Linked DNA regions of Homo sapiens. The gene in region 1 interacts genetically with each later gene. Each region holds a gene or a part of one and is shown on either strand. Other genes may lie near its edges.

The links. Genes that interact genetically often act in the same process or in processes that back each other up.
Region 2: changes in PTP4A3 (region 1) and SCN5A together harm fitness less than expected from each alone (positive genetic interaction), as found in Homo sapiens cells (one study listed by BioGRID).
Region 3: changes in PTP4A3 (region 1) and RNF144A together harm fitness less than expected from each alone (positive genetic interaction), as found in Homo sapiens cells (one study listed by BioGRID).

The regions. Positions count from the first base shown.
Region 1 is NC_000008.11:141,430,016-141,432,991, reverse strand, and holds the end of PTP4A3 (protein tyrosine phosphatase type IVA 3), read right to left. Parts: intron 2,066-2,976; coding exon 1,948-2,065; 3' UTR 538-1,947; downstream 1-537. UniProt on the Homo sapiens protein: Protein tyrosine phosphatase which stimulates progression from G1 into S phase during mitosis. Enhances cell proliferation, cell motility and invasive activity, and promotes cancer metastasis.
Region 2 is NC_000003.12:38,604,688-38,611,729, forward strand, and holds part of SCN5A (sodium channel protein type 5 subunit alpha), read right to left. Parts: intron 5,278-7,042; coding exon 5,047-5,277; intron 3,528-5,046; coding exon 3,464-3,527; intron 2,124-3,463; coding exon 1,982-2,123; intron 1,462-1,981; coding exon 1,264-1,461; intron 222-1,263; coding exon 42-221; intron 1-41. UniProt on the Homo sapiens protein: Pore-forming subunit of Nav1.5, a voltage-gated sodium (Nav) channel that directly mediates the depolarizing phase of action potentials in excitable membranes.
Region 3 is NC_000002.12:7,039,370-7,044,679, reverse strand, and holds the end of RNF144A (E3 ubiquitin-protein ligase RNF144A), read right to left. Parts: intron 5,052-5,310; coding exon 4,920-5,051; 3' UTR 501-4,919; downstream 1-500. UniProt on the Homo sapiens protein: E3 ubiquitin-protein ligase which accepts ubiquitin from E2 ubiquitin-conjugating enzymes UBE2L3 and UBE2L6 in the form of a thioester and then directly transfers the ubiquitin to targeted substrates.

The sequences.
Region 1 (2,976 bases):
CTCAGGCAGTCCTTCCACCTGGGGCATCTCCCCCACCTCCCGACGTGGTACTCTGCACTGTGCCCCCCCCAGGCCCCGCCTCCATGCCCCTGTCCCCCTGCCCCCTAACAAGGTGGAGCACACCAAGGCCCCACCTCCATGCCCCCATTTCTCCTGCCCCACGAGGTAGAGCACACCAAGGCCCCACCTCCATGCCCCCATTTCCCCTGCCCCCCAAGGTGGAGCACGCCAAGGCCCCGCCTCCATGCCCCCCATTCCCCCGTCCCCCCGGCAAGGTGGAGCACCCTGAGGCCCTGCCTCCATGCACCCTGTCCCTCAGTCCCCCCAAGGTGCAGCACCCCAAGGCCCCACCTCCATGCCCCCTGTCCCCGCCACCCCCCGAGGTGGAGCACCCCTAGCTGTAACTGGGAGGCTTACCAGCCTGTCTTCCCCCCAACCCTGCTAGACTGTGAGCCTCTTGGGGCAGGGACATGGCTACACAGGGCCAGCAGAGGTGACCCCAAAACTTGGCTGGTGGATTGAAAAAATACAGCAAACTTCACCCAACATGCATTGGATTTACTTGAGTTCCAAATGTGTTTGAGGAAAGGAGAGAATAACCATCCGGGACAGCTGTTGCCCTTTCTCCACACAGGAGCTGGGGGAGCCAGGTCTGCGGCCCCCTTAGCCATCTGTCGGTCTTGGGGGCAGGGCTGCCTGAGAAGGGGCTTTTGGGGTTTCCACATCTCCCCATCTTGTCCACTGACCTCCTCCAGCACCTGCCCCAGTCGCTCCTTGCGGGAACCTCCTGGGGCCCCAGGACGGAGACCACTCCCAGGCTCTCCACACCCTGGAGCCAGCCCTAGGCCCACCTTCCTCCCCGCTGGGGCCATGCCCTCCATGCACCCCGGCCCAGGGTGGGGCCAGCCCCCAACACAGACACTGCACCCAGGAACACATGAGCATCTGGTCCACGCCCTCCGGCGGGCCCTGGTCCAGGCCTCTCACATCCAGCCCCAGGTGCCCAGGTGGCACCCTCCCTCCCTGGGCTGATGGATGGTGACTTCCTCCACCCAAGCCACCACCTGCCCCCTTCTCTGCGCCTCGGAGCCGGAAATGTGGACACCTGGTTTGGGCAGCACAGGGACCAACCAGCCGGACACAGGCCCTGAGAAGCTGCCAAATGAATCCCAGCCCATCCTGCAGAGGACAGTGCTGGTGACCTGCCTCGCCTTCCAATGTCACAGTCCCAAGAACCGTCAACACGGCCACCCTGGCCAAGGCAGGGCTCCCACCTCGGTATCAGGACAGGACAGGGCAGGCTGGCCCCTGGGTCGGGGTGCAAGGACCCAGAGCGGCCACCAGAGGGCAGCGCAAGAGCACGCGGGAGCCCCATCCTGGGCACCAGCCCAGGATCCAGACAGCAGCCTCTGGGGCCCCCAGGCCACCAGCCCGCCCCGCCTGACGCTGTAGCCCACTCCACACACACGGCCACGGCTCCTGTTTTATTGCCTTCGGGTGTCCGGAGCACCTGACTGCCCCGGGGTCTAATAATTTAAGGTGCCGAGAACAGGTCAGGACAAGGGGTCGCAAAAGAGGGGCTGGGGGCCCAGTGGTTACAAAATATACCCCCACCCCACAACAAACAGGCTAGAGGAGACCAGCCTGGCTGGTGTGGGAGGGGGCGGGCAGAGGGCGCCCGACCCACCTCAGAGAGACAGAGCCACGGCCAGCGCCGCCAGAGGGAGTGGCGGAGACAGGAGAAAGGGCCCAGAGGCCACCCAGGGCCCGAGGGGCTCCTCGCTCCTCGGACACAAGTGCACGGAGGTGTCGGGGAGGAAAAGGCGATGTGGGGCCAGCCAAGGCCTGGAGCCCCTGCTGGGCTGGGCAGAGCAGGGCTGGGCAGGGCCTCCAGGTCCAGCCAAGGTCCTGACCTACATGACGACCAGGCCCAGCCAAGGTCCTGAGCTACATAACGCAGCACCGGGTCTTGTGCGTGTGTGGGTCTTTGAACCGCAGCCTCTGTTTGGGCCGGTATTTCTCCAGGTAGGTGAGCTGCTTGCTGTTGATGGCTCCGCGGCGCTTCCTGGGAAGAGGGGAACAGGAACAGAGATCATCCAAGGACCTGGCTCGGCCATCTCACCTGCCCCAGGGAGCTGGAATCTGAGAGTGCAGTGGGCTGGAGTAAGGCCTTGAGGCTGGCCAAGCCCCTCCTGTCCCAGGGCCTTGGCACGGCTGCTCCCAGAGTCACAGTCACCCTTTCCTGGCCCCCTGCAGCTCACCCCTGCTTGCCTTCCAAACTCACCAAAGCGCCACCTCCTCCAGGCTGACTCTGGGCTCCCTACGGCCCCCAGGCTTCCCTAGCTCGGTAGGACCCACCCCAAGGCCATGAGCAGACAACAAGGGTGGTGCCTGGGCACCTCCACCATCCAGGAAGGGGGGCCTGTGAGTAAGGGAGGGGCTGAGCCCAGAATTCCAGCCCAGCTGCGCGACCTTCCCTTACAACAGGGACCTGGGCTGCATGCTCACCCTGTCCCCACCATCCCCACCACCTGGTCCTTACAGCGGGGACCTGGGCTATGCGCTCACCCTGTCCCCGCCACCTGGTCCTTACAGCGGGGACGTGGGCTGTGCGCTTACCCTGTCCCCGCCACCGGGTCCTTACAGCGGGGACCTGGACTGTGTGCTCACCCTGTCCCCGCCACCGGGTCCTTACAGCGGGGACCCGGACTGTGTGCTCACCCTGTCCCCACCATCCCCACCACCTGGTCCTTACAGCGGGGACCTGGGCTATGCGCTCACCCTGTCCCCGCCACCTGGTCCTTACAGCGGGGACCCGGACTGTGTGCTCACCCTGTCCCCGCCACCTGGTCCTTACAGCGGAAACCTGGGCTGTACGCTCACCCTGTCCCCGCCACCTGGTCCTTACAGCGGGGACCCGGACTGTGCGCTCACCCTGTCCCCGCCACCTGGTCCTTACAGCGGGGACCCAGACTG
Region 2 (7,042 bases), on another chromosome or scaffold:
CAGACCCACCCTGGAAAAGCTAGAACCACAGCTGGGATTACCATTGCTCTGGGACCATCTTCTGAGTCAGACTTGGGGAGCCTGTCCTCCCCACACTCCTCAGTTCCTGAAGACATCCGTTTTCTCCTCTTGCTTCTTCTCTCATGGCTGTTTACTGGGGCCAAAGGGGACATCTCCAAGGAGCTACGGGACACGGTATCCACACCCCTGATGGTGAGGGCCTGGAAAAGAGTGGAGGAACGGACGTTTCCATCATTGAGACTTTGTGCAGCCTCAGGCTCAGGCAGGCCAGGCAACTCTCAGTGACTTGGTTTTCCCTATCAGTAAGTGGACTTGCACACCTACCCCAAAATGAGGACATCATGGAGATAAACTCAGACAGACCCAGAATGTTTTGGGAAAGATCAAGATCCAGGAAGGAAGATAGGAGTGGCTAAAGTGGGCAGCCTCGGAAGACTGGAGTGTGTGGAACAGGTGGGAGGTGGGTGTAGATGAGCAGAGAAGTGGCAGAACCAGAAGGCAGAGGCTCTTCTAGAAGGTTTAGCTGGCCAAAAGTGTACTGGAATATGTGGCATGGGGTAGTGAGAAGAACAAGTGGATGCTTCTAATAGCTCTGGCTTCTAATAGCTCACTCTATAGCCAGCCTCCAGGCTCCACCATGTGGGGGACTAGGGATGGCTAGGGCAGCATTGTCAGTGCTTATTTTCTGAGACAGCTCTGTTCTCTGACATTGGACCTTCTTCACTACCCCACCAGAAGGCATCCCTTGACCAGAATAAACTATGTGCATGTATACATGCATCTCTTATCCAGCATGCACTATGCTCACAGGGACCATCTTTACCCAGGAGCTACCACCCAGCAGGCACCATTTTTACCCAGCTGGCGCCACCTTCACCTGGAGGACATGACGACCATAGGGAACAAGTTTACTCAGCACAAGCCACACTCATAGGACCCACCTTACCCAGCAGATGTCACTTTTACCTAGTAGGCTCCTCACTAACAGGCACGTCTTAACCCAGCAGGTTCCAAATTTTTACTCAGCGATACCACATTCACAGAAAATATCTTTACCCAGCAGGCACTGCACCATGCCCACAGGCACTGGCTTTACCCAGCATGCACCATGCCCACAGGCACCAGCTTTACCCAGCATGTACCACGCCCACAGGCACCAGCTTTAACTGGCATATACCCCACCTATAGGCACCTACAGTCAGGTGAGGGCTTAGAGGCTCCTCGGTGGCACTGCTCACCCACCTCGTGTTCTTTCTTGAGCATTTCCATGGCCTCCTGGAAGCGCTTTTCCTTCTCCTCGGTCTCAGCGATGGTGGCTTGGTTTTGCTCCTCATAGGCCATTGCGACCACGGCCAGGATCAGGTTCACCAGGTAGAAGGACCCCAGGAAGATGACAAGCATGAAGAAGATCATGTAGATCTTCCCTGCGGACCTGAGGGTCTGGGGGAGCAAGGGGGCAGAGGTCACCCTCACTGGGGCCCCTTCTGGGTTATGGCATTTCCAAGTCACCTAGTCTAGTTGTGCCAGGGGTTCAAATAGCCATAGCCTAGGGAGGAGGGTAGAGATGTCCCACCTATAGAGAGGGACATGTACTGACCTGCAGAGGAGAATGACCTGCACACAGCGGGACTGTGTCCCACCTGAGGAGGGAGGCAGAATGTTCCACCCAACTCAGGGCATGCTGTGCCCACAGAGGGAGAATATTCCATCCTACAGGGAGAAAGAGTGTCCCACTCACAGAGCAGAGAGCATCCTATACAAAGGGACTGGTACTTCATCACCAGCAAAAAGAAAGTTTCTTTGCTGCTGATCCCTTCTCCCTCAGAAGCAAGGGTCCTTGTCCCCTGTCCCCTCCAAAGCTCCCACCAGTGGGGAGGCTGCTGGGGCCACTTCTGGCTAGTCACTTGTGTAGCCTGGACCCTGAGCCCACACTTGCTGTCCCTTGTGGGCACACACACACCTGCTGATAGAGGCGCTCCCAGCAGTCCTGCGTCATCAGGCGGAAGAGTGCAAGAAAGGCCCAGGCAAAGGAATCGAAGCTGGTGTAGCCGTGGTCGGGGTTCTCGCCTGCCTTTAGGCACCGGTAGCCCTCCGGACATGTCCTGCAGCCACACACAGAGACTTTGTTCCATGCCGTCAGGGGTCTGCTGCCCTTGAGACCCTTGCTGGGCTGGACTTGTCTCCCTGGGCAACCCAGTTTATGCCCCACAGCTCAGTGAAGCTGAGCTTCACAAACCTAGTGCCACGCTGCTGGATCCTGCCTCCGTGACTTTGTTCGTGCTGTGCCTCCCACTGGGACACTATCTTCCTCTTTACTCTTCTTATATGTACTCTGCTAGGCCTAAATCAAGCTCCCTTCTGCCCATACGTCACACCATCCCCAGCTACTATCAAGTTGCCTCTCCTCACAGAGAGGAAGCACACAAGCCTGGCTCATGTCTCTTCCTCTGCCCATCTACCCCATGAGGAGTTGAGTACAGCATGGGCATGGGGGAGAGCAGGGTTGGGGAGAGCAGTGAGCCTCGGCTGAGCTGAACAGGATGAGCCCAGGGCAAAGGCAGGGCCATGGGGTTGAGAAATGATTCTGGAGGGGATGGGCTGGGGCTTGGCCATGTCAGGAGCTCATTTGCACAACTGTGCACACAGCCACTGGTTCACTGAGGCAGATTCACAGTTCACAGAGCTGGAGGTGGTAGCCTCTCTCCAAAGAGGAAATGCTGGTCTGGAGTCATGTGTGCATGTATGTGTGTATGACACACACACACACACACACACACACACACACACACGAGGGACTTAGCAAGTGGATGGATGCATCCAAGGGACCTCTGTGTCTTGCTAATGCCCCAAGACCCTCCAGACAATCTCTTTGGTGACAGGAAGGAGGCAACAAACTTGGTACTTCTCCTTTGAGGTGGCCCTCTGTGACCCCCTTCTCCAACACTCCATGGCACTGTCACAGTGATCCAGGCCCTGGTGTGCACAGGGCCCTGGAAGCTGCACATGGCTACTGGGCATCTCAAGGAAAGTCCAGGCTGCTGGAGAAACCACATTTGCTCCAAGGGACAGATCAGCAGCAACGGAGGGAAGACTGGAGCTGGAGGGAGCAGTTCTGGGGAGCTTCTGGAAGGGAATGGAGCTGGGGGTGGGCTGGTTGGGGGGCTGTAGAAGGCATCCCAGGCTATCCCTCAGTCCCAGCCCACCTTCAGGGCTCCGTTAGCTCTCCCTGCAGCTCTGTCCCTGACCTTTCTCCAGAAGCTGTCTCCTCTGTGCTGGGGGCAAGGTGGGGAAGCTGGGGAAGGGTCCTGGCAGGTAAGGGAGACAAAAGAAGGCCTCGCTGTCCCTGGGGTCAGGGCATAAATAGAAAATACAGTCAGTTGAGAAAACACCAGGAGACTCCCCTGGCAGGACAAGGAGACCCGGGGTGGTAGGTGCCACATACCCAGCGTCAGAGCTGTTCCCACACAGTAACACATCAGAGGTGCCGTTCTTGAGCAGGTAATTTTCTGTAAGAGAAACATCATGCTGGTGAGGGGCACTCTGGCCCAAAAGTTTCCGCCTTGCATCCAGGGCTCTGGGGAGGTGGAGACCTCACTAGCGGTCTTCCTTCTTCTCTGCCCCTTCCCTGCCCCTGCCCCTGCCCTCTGCCTGGCCAGGCTTCAGGCAACTCTGGCTGTGCCTCTGGCCTTCCTTCTGTTCCTCTGAAGACATCCTGCTGCCAGTGTCCCCATGCTCTCAGAAGACACGGGAAGCCCTGGGCAGGGCCTCAGCTCTCCCCACAGGAAGCTTCTGCACCCTACCCGAAACCACTCAGGGGGCCCACCAAGGCCAGGAGGCAAGGGTCTGGGCAGTTACGGCTTGGCTGCCGAGTCACTGTGGGGCCTTGGCCGGCTACTGCCCAGCTCTGTACTCACTTCCATCACATAAAATGCTGGAAGTGATGCCTGCAATAGTCACCATGCTAACGCTGTGGTCTGTCCGGATGGGGCTACACCAGACAGGACTGCCCGTCTTGTCCTCTCCTTTCTGTGGCAAGTCATCAGTCCCCAACACTCACCATTACCTGGCTTTGTCTTAGGCGACAGTTGTCAAAGCATGGTCCTCGAACCAGCATCATCAGCATCAAGTGGAAACTGCTTAGAAATGCAACTTCCTGACTGCCACCCAGACCTACTGACTCGGAAACTCTAGGGGTGGGGCCCAGAAGTCTGTTTTCCAGAGCCTTCTAGGTGACTTGGGTGTACATGGAAGTTTTAGAACTGCTGTTATGAGGCCACTGCTGAACTACTCATTGAGTGTCTATGTTTTGTTTTCCAAAGTGGACTGCTGGTGTATGTAAGAGGCCCTAACTTCAGAATGGCCCTCAGGGTCATTCTGGCCCAGGGTCCTGTGGCCTGGAATCTGGCCTTGCAGCAGCATGTACCTCCGAAACAGACCAATGGCTCTAGTCAAGAGTGGTGCTGGCCATCAGCCTGGAGAATGGAAGTGTGAGCCACGGGGCAGTGAAACAACAGAGGGGCTCACACAACTTGGCACAATCATTGGGCTTGTTCCAACCCTCTTGCAGGGTTCTGGGGTACACGTATATGGAACGAGCATCCTGGCAAGGAACACTGACGGCAACTGGGAAATCTCCATGCCAGCTAGGTGGGGCTTCACTCTGAAGCCTCATCAACTACGCTGGCTCCATGTCCACCCCTTTCCTAAGCTGACACTCTGTGGGCAGGCTGGTCACCTTGCCATTGCAACACTCTAGGGTCAGTCCCATCTCCAAATGCCGCAGCCAACTGGCCCTCTATCTAACTCCATACTTTCCACTCCTCAAGCATTGCCTCTCCGTCTAGCCTGGGAAGTCACAAGGCAGGCCCTAAGTCTGCTACCCGTCTGTCCTCTGTCTGGGTCTCTGGGGGATCAGGCAGGGCTTGAACAGCCCTGGAGGCCTGCCCTCTGGTGACGCGTGTGTGGGAGGTGACCCCGGTCTGCTGGTCTCACAAAGTCTTCCCCAGCTGCAGAGCAAGTTCGCACCTGGATCACTGAGGTAAAGGTCCAGGGATTCCCAGACCAAGCCGTCGGCCTCCACGGAGCCGTTGGTGCCGTTGAGCGCTGTGAAGTTGCGCACGCACTTGTGCCTTAGGTTGCCCATGAAGAGCTGCAGGCCGATGAGGGCAAAGACGCTGAGGCAGAAGACTGTGAGGACCATCACATCAGCCAGCTTCTTCACAGACTGGATCAGGGCCCCCACGATGGTCTTCAGCCCTGGGGAAGGCAAGAACAAGCACGGGGTCACCCAGGGGCACCGAGCTCTGTGCTCCACTGGTGGGGGGCTGGGCCTGAGTTGAGCTGGGGTGGGGCCAGTGTAGGCAACCAGAGGTGGGGACAGAATAAGGGAGGCTTCTCCTGGGCTTTGAGACCCAAGCCCCACTTTCCTCACAGCTGAGATTCTGTCCTGATTTCCCTGGGCAGGAGTCTAGGCTGGCTTTGTAGTTTCAGAGGGAGCCTGCTCCTCTTTGCTCTCCACCAGCCAAATATATGGCATGGGTGTGGAAAGTGCTGCTTTCTTGAGACAACACATACTCAGAGCATGACCCCCTTTGGCTAGTCTGAAGGTGTGCTAGGCCTACCCCTTTTAATGTAGTCCATGGAAAAGGAGATGGAGGCAATTGAGGGGCCTCAGCCTTGATCTTGAGATGGGGAGAAATAGAGCCATTCCTGCTGGAGGTCCTCCTGCCCCACTGCTGGGGCTGGCTCTATTTGATGTACAGGGAGTGTGGATTGTTTGGAGGAAACTAGGGGCCCAGGGTCTGGTCGGGTAGGGGCTGAGGGCTGTGGTCAGGTGTGTGCTGGGGGCTGTGGGTGACGGTCTGGCGGGGTCATGGCGGGTGATGTCTAAGGGGCCTGCGCTGGCTCAGGCCCACCTTTAGGGAAGGTTCAGGAACAGGACTGACCTGCATTGCATCTTCTCACTTGCCCTGTCCCTCTAGAACCTCCCCACACCCCCATCCATCCCATTTCCCATAGCTGAGAGGCTGTGTTCTGTTAGTTGCACAGCCTAGCTCCCTGCAGAAGCCAGCACCACATAGCAGAATGACAGAAAAGCATGTGTAGACACCAGTCTGGCCCTTAGCGACTGTCCTAGGACAAGTGCAAGCAGAGCATGGGGAATGAGGAGGCTCCTCTGCCAGCGGCAGGGCCCTGCCCCTCATGTCCCTGTCCCAAGCGGCCAGATCTCAGATTAAGCTCCATCCATCCACTGTCCAGCCGGTTAATGTGTTAGGAGCGCCTGTGGCTTCTGTGCCTGCTGCTGCTGGGCCTGTGACCCACAGGCAGGGAGGCCATGATGAGCAAACACAAGATGGGGAGAGGATGACCTCCCCATGGTGCCACTGACATTGCTGCCCACCCAGGGCTCAGAGGCACTCAGCCTTCCTTGTGGAAATCGTTCCTGGCAGATGTTGGCAACTGCCTGGGCAGTGGGTGGACCTCACAGGTCTGGGTCCAGAGTAGTGGCGGTGGTGAGATTCACAAGCTCTTCATGGTCCAGAGCTCCTCATCTGTAACAGAGCTTCCTGTACCCTTTGGTGGGTTTACTGGGCTGGAGACCTGCATGTCTCGAAGGGAACAAAGTGAAGACTGATGGACAGCAGCTCCAATACCCAAACTGGTCTCTGCCTCAATTGTTAGGCTAAAGTCTCTTTGGCCTGAAGTATCCCATTCAAGGCCAGCAAAGCACCCCCTGACCTGGTCTGTGGACATAGTGGCCAAGGGTAACTCACCCCTTTGAACATTTCTCATACTGATGATAGATTTCACTTCTGGCAAGAATGGTTGCAACGAAACTGCAGGATTCTTTCTGAAAAGACCCAGGAAGGGATTGGCCCCAGGAGATCAACTGGGAAATCCTCCTGCCACTGAATTAACAGGCTGGGTGGAAGAGCCCTTGGAAATCACCAATTCTGATTTCACTCTCATTTTATGGAAAAGCGACTGAGTCTAGAGAGGACTAGGGCTATTTCAGACTCAG
Region 3 (5,310 bases), on another chromosome or scaffold:
CTCATTATTATCTCTCCTACGAAATGAGAAGGATCCATATTTATTCCACTTTCTCCCCACCCCCAGCAGATAAAGGATGCCTCCTGATTTTCATGCTGCAACTCATAAAATGTGACAGGTCTGTAAGGAACTTGTCTTTGCGGATGGAAGCAGAGCGCCCTGAGTGGGGATGAGATGCTTCCTGATGCTGCAGTACCGGTTGGGCACCACAAGAGGGAGCCAGGAATGGCTGGACGGGTTGATACACCCAACAAACCAAGTAATTTTGGCATCTAGGAGTTGAGAACATTCCTAAAACAGAAAATCTCAGGATACAAGAGCTGTTTTCCCAGTGATATAAGATCCCTCCCCTGCCTCACCCTTTCTCCCTCCACCCCCAGTTCCCACATTGAATATTTTCAATCTTCAATAGATTAAATATTGAAGACTGAAGATAGAATATTTTCCATCTTCAGGCCAGTAGTCAGATAAGCATCTACAAAAGACGGAGCCACGCGGGGTTTACAAAAGTCACCTGTATTCCAGCCAAAATAGCTTTAAAAAGGAATCCCTGCTAAAGGGGGGGACAAACTACGTAAGACACAATACATTTAAAATATGTATTGAAATTACAAATCAAACTTTTTCCATATGATTCCAGAGTACAAAACACAACATTAAAAGGCATTCAAACAGCTCTTTTATACATCACAGTGTTAGTGGCACAAAATGTACTGACATTTCAAAAACACAAATCAAATCTGTTTTGATTTTGTTTCACCACCACTTGTCAAATACATAACGTATACATGTGCATGACTCATTCATGCATATTTTTATACAAGATTAAAATACACCCATAGTAAAGTGAGCAAAGAAGGAAAGAAAGGGCAGGCATGGGGCATGTAGCTACCCCTCACTGAAGGCTCCGGAACTGTGGAAGACAGAATTGCACAAATCAAAGGAAGGGTGGAGACCCTGGGTTTTTTAAACATCAAGACGGCATGCTCTCCTAGTTGTGAAGCATTAGCAATTAGGTTTTAACGCAGGCCCCTTTGTTCCTTTTGGTGTTTTTGGTAATACCTGTCATAATCCCTTCATTTTGTTTATTTTCATAAGGGCTTAGGTTAATTATCAGAAATAAACAAGCTTTGGTATTTTTTAAAGAGAACTTCATGAAGCTTTACACATGCAAAATGTTTTCCCTTGATGATCTCCTTGTGATTTATATATATACACAGGTGTGCTCACTAATAAATGAGAATCTGAGACACACACACAAAGCCCATCCTGGATCCTTTCAATCCCCTAATTTTTAAAGACTACCAAGAAAAAAATGTTTTTTTAATTTGTAAAATGACTTCTAACTTTTGCAATACAAATGAAAACAATAAACTCATCTTGAAGTAATTTTTGCATCTCTGATAGTCCCTCCCACAGGTCCTGTGTTCTAATCAGGAACTGGCCTGTGCCCTAAACTGGTTTTATGGAATAATATGTTGTCAAGATCATTTGTTCCCCTTTAAGAAAATAGGCCGGGTGGGGTGGCTCAGGCCTGTAATTCCAGCACTTTGGGAAGCCGAGGTGGGCAGATCACCTGAGGTCAGGAGTTTGAGAGTAGCCTGGCCAACATGGTGAAACCCCGTCTCTACTGAAAATACAAAAATTAGCTGGGTGAGGTGGTGGGTGCCTGTAATCCCAGCTACTTGGGAGGCTGAGGCAGGAGAATCGCTTGAACCCGGGAGGCAGAGCTTGCAGTGAGCCGAGATCCTGTCATTGTACTCCAGCTTGGGGGACAAAAGCGAAACTCCGTCTCAAAAAGAAAAAAAAAGAAAGAAAATGCCAGAGGTGGCAGATGTTGGTTCCTCTGTCCACAGCTACTCCTATGAGTTGAGGAGGAAGAACTAATTTGGACAGTTATTCCTGCAATCCGATGCTTTATCTCAGATCCTAAGTCAGTCTCTGCTACGTGGACATCTATGGTGACTGCATCTTTGCAAGGTGCTGACCTCCTATGAGGCTGCAAGCTCATCTGGCTGGGCTATGGACTACACAGCAGAGCCAGACTGAGAGGTCAGGCATTTCCAGCAAAACCTCCAAATGTGGTCAGTTACTCAAGGGCCTCAGAGAAGCCACAGGTCCACTGGGCTAAGGCCAGTCCTCACTGGCCACCCACCCTGGGCGGCAGTACAGCAGCCATGGTTGTCTAAGGGCCTTCGCCCCTTACTCCCCAGGATTAAAGGCCTCTTAGTGAACACATGCCATATGCTTCTGGGGCTTGCAGTGAACACCATCTGTAAGAGTGAATGCCATTTTTCAATGGAGACAAATTATGCCGCTTCACAGGAATAAGTCCGTCCACTCAACGCAGAACTCCCCAGGTTTTACTGGGGAATGATGGCAAGATCAAAGTCCAAACCCAGGGCCATCTGCCTGTGTGCTATTTCCATTTTACATCAAGCAGGGTTCATACTGTATTCCCATCAAAGATAAGTCTGGCACTCCTTACTAAAACAGAAGGAAATGCGAGTTTATGTATCTCAGAGTGATCTTGCTGGTATTTATATAGGAAATGGACAATTTTAATTTTATATCTAGATCAAAATGAGGAAACTGAGGCATGCTTCATACAAAAAGTCAGAGCCAGTAGGTGCCAATTTGACTGCCCCTGGCTGGCCCCAGAATCTCTGTGGTCCCTATCTGGGTTGAACTACGTGCTTGTGAAACACATCAGAGGTGAAGGCACAAGGATGGCTGGGGCTACAGATGTGCATGACTGGGCCAGAGACTCTTCCAACAGAACAGCCTGTCCCTCTAGAAATAAGGTCATCTGAGCTCTAGCCCTGGGGATGCAGCCTTTCCAAAGGCTCTGACTCTCATCCTAAGGACGGGGGTGCTACTGTGTGGGCTCATGCGATGGGCAGCAGCAATTTCAGGCAGGAAGGATGAGCATATGGTGGAGGCGTGTCCTGTGGGCCACTGGACACAGGGCCACAGGCCTCCCATGTGTGCTGGGCATGTTAAAGGGCAGTGGCTGGACAGCTGCATCCACATATCACAGGCTGAGGGCTCAAGCCCAGCCAATGACTCCCGCGTGGAGTTGCCACCCACCTCCAGAAAAGCTATTCTAACAGTAGACACCATCACAGCACCACAAACGACAGAGAGCCACAGCCCAGGTTCCATCCAGAAAGGGAGTCGCAGGCATGTTCTTACTGAGTTACTAAACTTGCAATTACAAGGAGAGCTTTTTGAATGTAATTTTGACACACAGGGATTTTCTAAATGGCTTCGGGTTCATAAGGAAAATCAACATGACAGGTGAAGAGTGAGGTGACGCTGTTTTTTCTAACGAATTCAATGTTAGGAAATAAGAAATAAATTTCCAACCAGGGAAAGTAAACTAGGACCTGAGACTGATACTCAAATGCAGAAGTCAAACACACACAAAGCAACATTTTAAAAATGTGCTTGTGATGGGCAAATAACTGAGATAAAAGGATTTTGTTTTACTTCTTTATAGAATGTTTAACAAGATTTTTAAAATCCCACTGTAATATAGCTACAATATTTGCCTGTTATTTTTAGAAGTTTTAAATTCAATGCAGTTTGCTTTGTAAAAGCACCTGTGGCTTTTAGAAGTAAATTCTCTTTAAAGAATACACTTTCTCCACTTTTCAAAGTCAATTGGTGGAATAATGTGTATGTGTCCTTATTAATCCCTGCATCCTGCTGCCATGGAAATGGTCACAGACAGCCCTGTAAAAGATCAAGTGGTAAAATCCCCACGTTAAAACGAAGTGAAATGGGAGGTTCTTTTCCCCAACAAGAGCAAAACGGTTAGCAACAGGACTTGGAACTGTGTAAGATATATGATTTCTCAAAATGACTAGAACATTTTAAAAATGTGAAAATCTGGCAGGCTCTTCCCTAGCCCCCAGAGTCCTCCAGCCTCTGCCAAGAGGCCCCTACATCTGCGGATCAATGAGGCTGCTTTCTTCTTACTGTCTATCTGAAGACTGAGGCCAGAGGCCAGACGGCAGCAATTCGGAGGAGAACCATTGCCGAGCAAAGCAGTGGGATTGAATACAATAAAAAGCGTTTTCTGCTACCTGGGAGAGAAGGGATGAGGCCCATGAGCTGAGCTGAATCACCAAAGAGAGAAAACAACAAAAGGCAAATCTAATGGAGATGAGATGTTCCTTTAAACACGTCAATATTATCAAGGAAATGCAACAATATAGGAAGCACACTTATAACAGTACACAGCTTACAGCGTTCAAAAAGTTACTACAGCAAGTTTCAAGAAAAACACAAAGAGTGCATAAGGCTTTCTAAATCTCCTGAAAAGTCGTTTAACTATAACTTCTTAAAATGCACATTTCAAGAAAGGCATAGGATGGTTTATATGCACCTTGTTGATTTTCACTACTCAGTTGGAAAAAAAATACCTTCTAAAAAGGATTTTACTAAATGCCATTAGTAATAAAAACAGTTGTCATAAACAGAGTGCTTCTCTCAAGCTGGAATAATCAGATTCTGTCTGAAGAGAGTGGCAGTCCTTAAAAGACTTCTCTGACAACATGGTGCCATCTAGAAGCCAAGGAGCAGAAAGTCTCTTAGGCCATCCCCAGACATGCCTAGTCTACCACAGAGAGAAAGCTGCCTGGTGCACTTCTCACAGCACCTCCCTGTCATCTGCAGAGATTGATCTGTGGGGATGTGCGCTACCCACACCTGCCTCCCCTCCCCACCACACCTGGGGCCTCAGCGAACATTGTGACATAGGTCCCTGAAATCACGGCGTCCAGCCTGACACTGTGAAGCTCAATGGGGCACATAAGGCAAGAAAGATGTTTAGTGAAGGGGGGACGGTGGGGAGGGTTGGGGGAGAGCCACACTTCCCGGAGGCAGGGATGTGTTCCAGCATCGCGCTTCCTCTAGGTGGGTAACGGGTCGTCGTCACCTTTACTGCACTTGCACTTGCAGCAAAGTACAAAGGGAGTGGCCAGGAGTAGGAAAGGTGAGGCCACCAAGAGCAGCAGCCCAAATCCTGCAAAAATGCCCACAACCTGGAAGAAAGAAACAAAGGGGTAGAGGTAAGGAGGGCTGGTCTGTAGGTTCCAGAGCTAAAGTGTAAACCACACAACCAGCTACCCATCCATCCATCCATCCATCCACCCAACCATCCATCTATCCATCCATCCATCTACCCATCTAGTCATCATCTACTCATTCATCCATTAACCATCATATATCTCTCTATCCATCCATCCACCTACCCATCCATCTATCCATCCATCCATCTACCCATCTAACCATCATCTACCC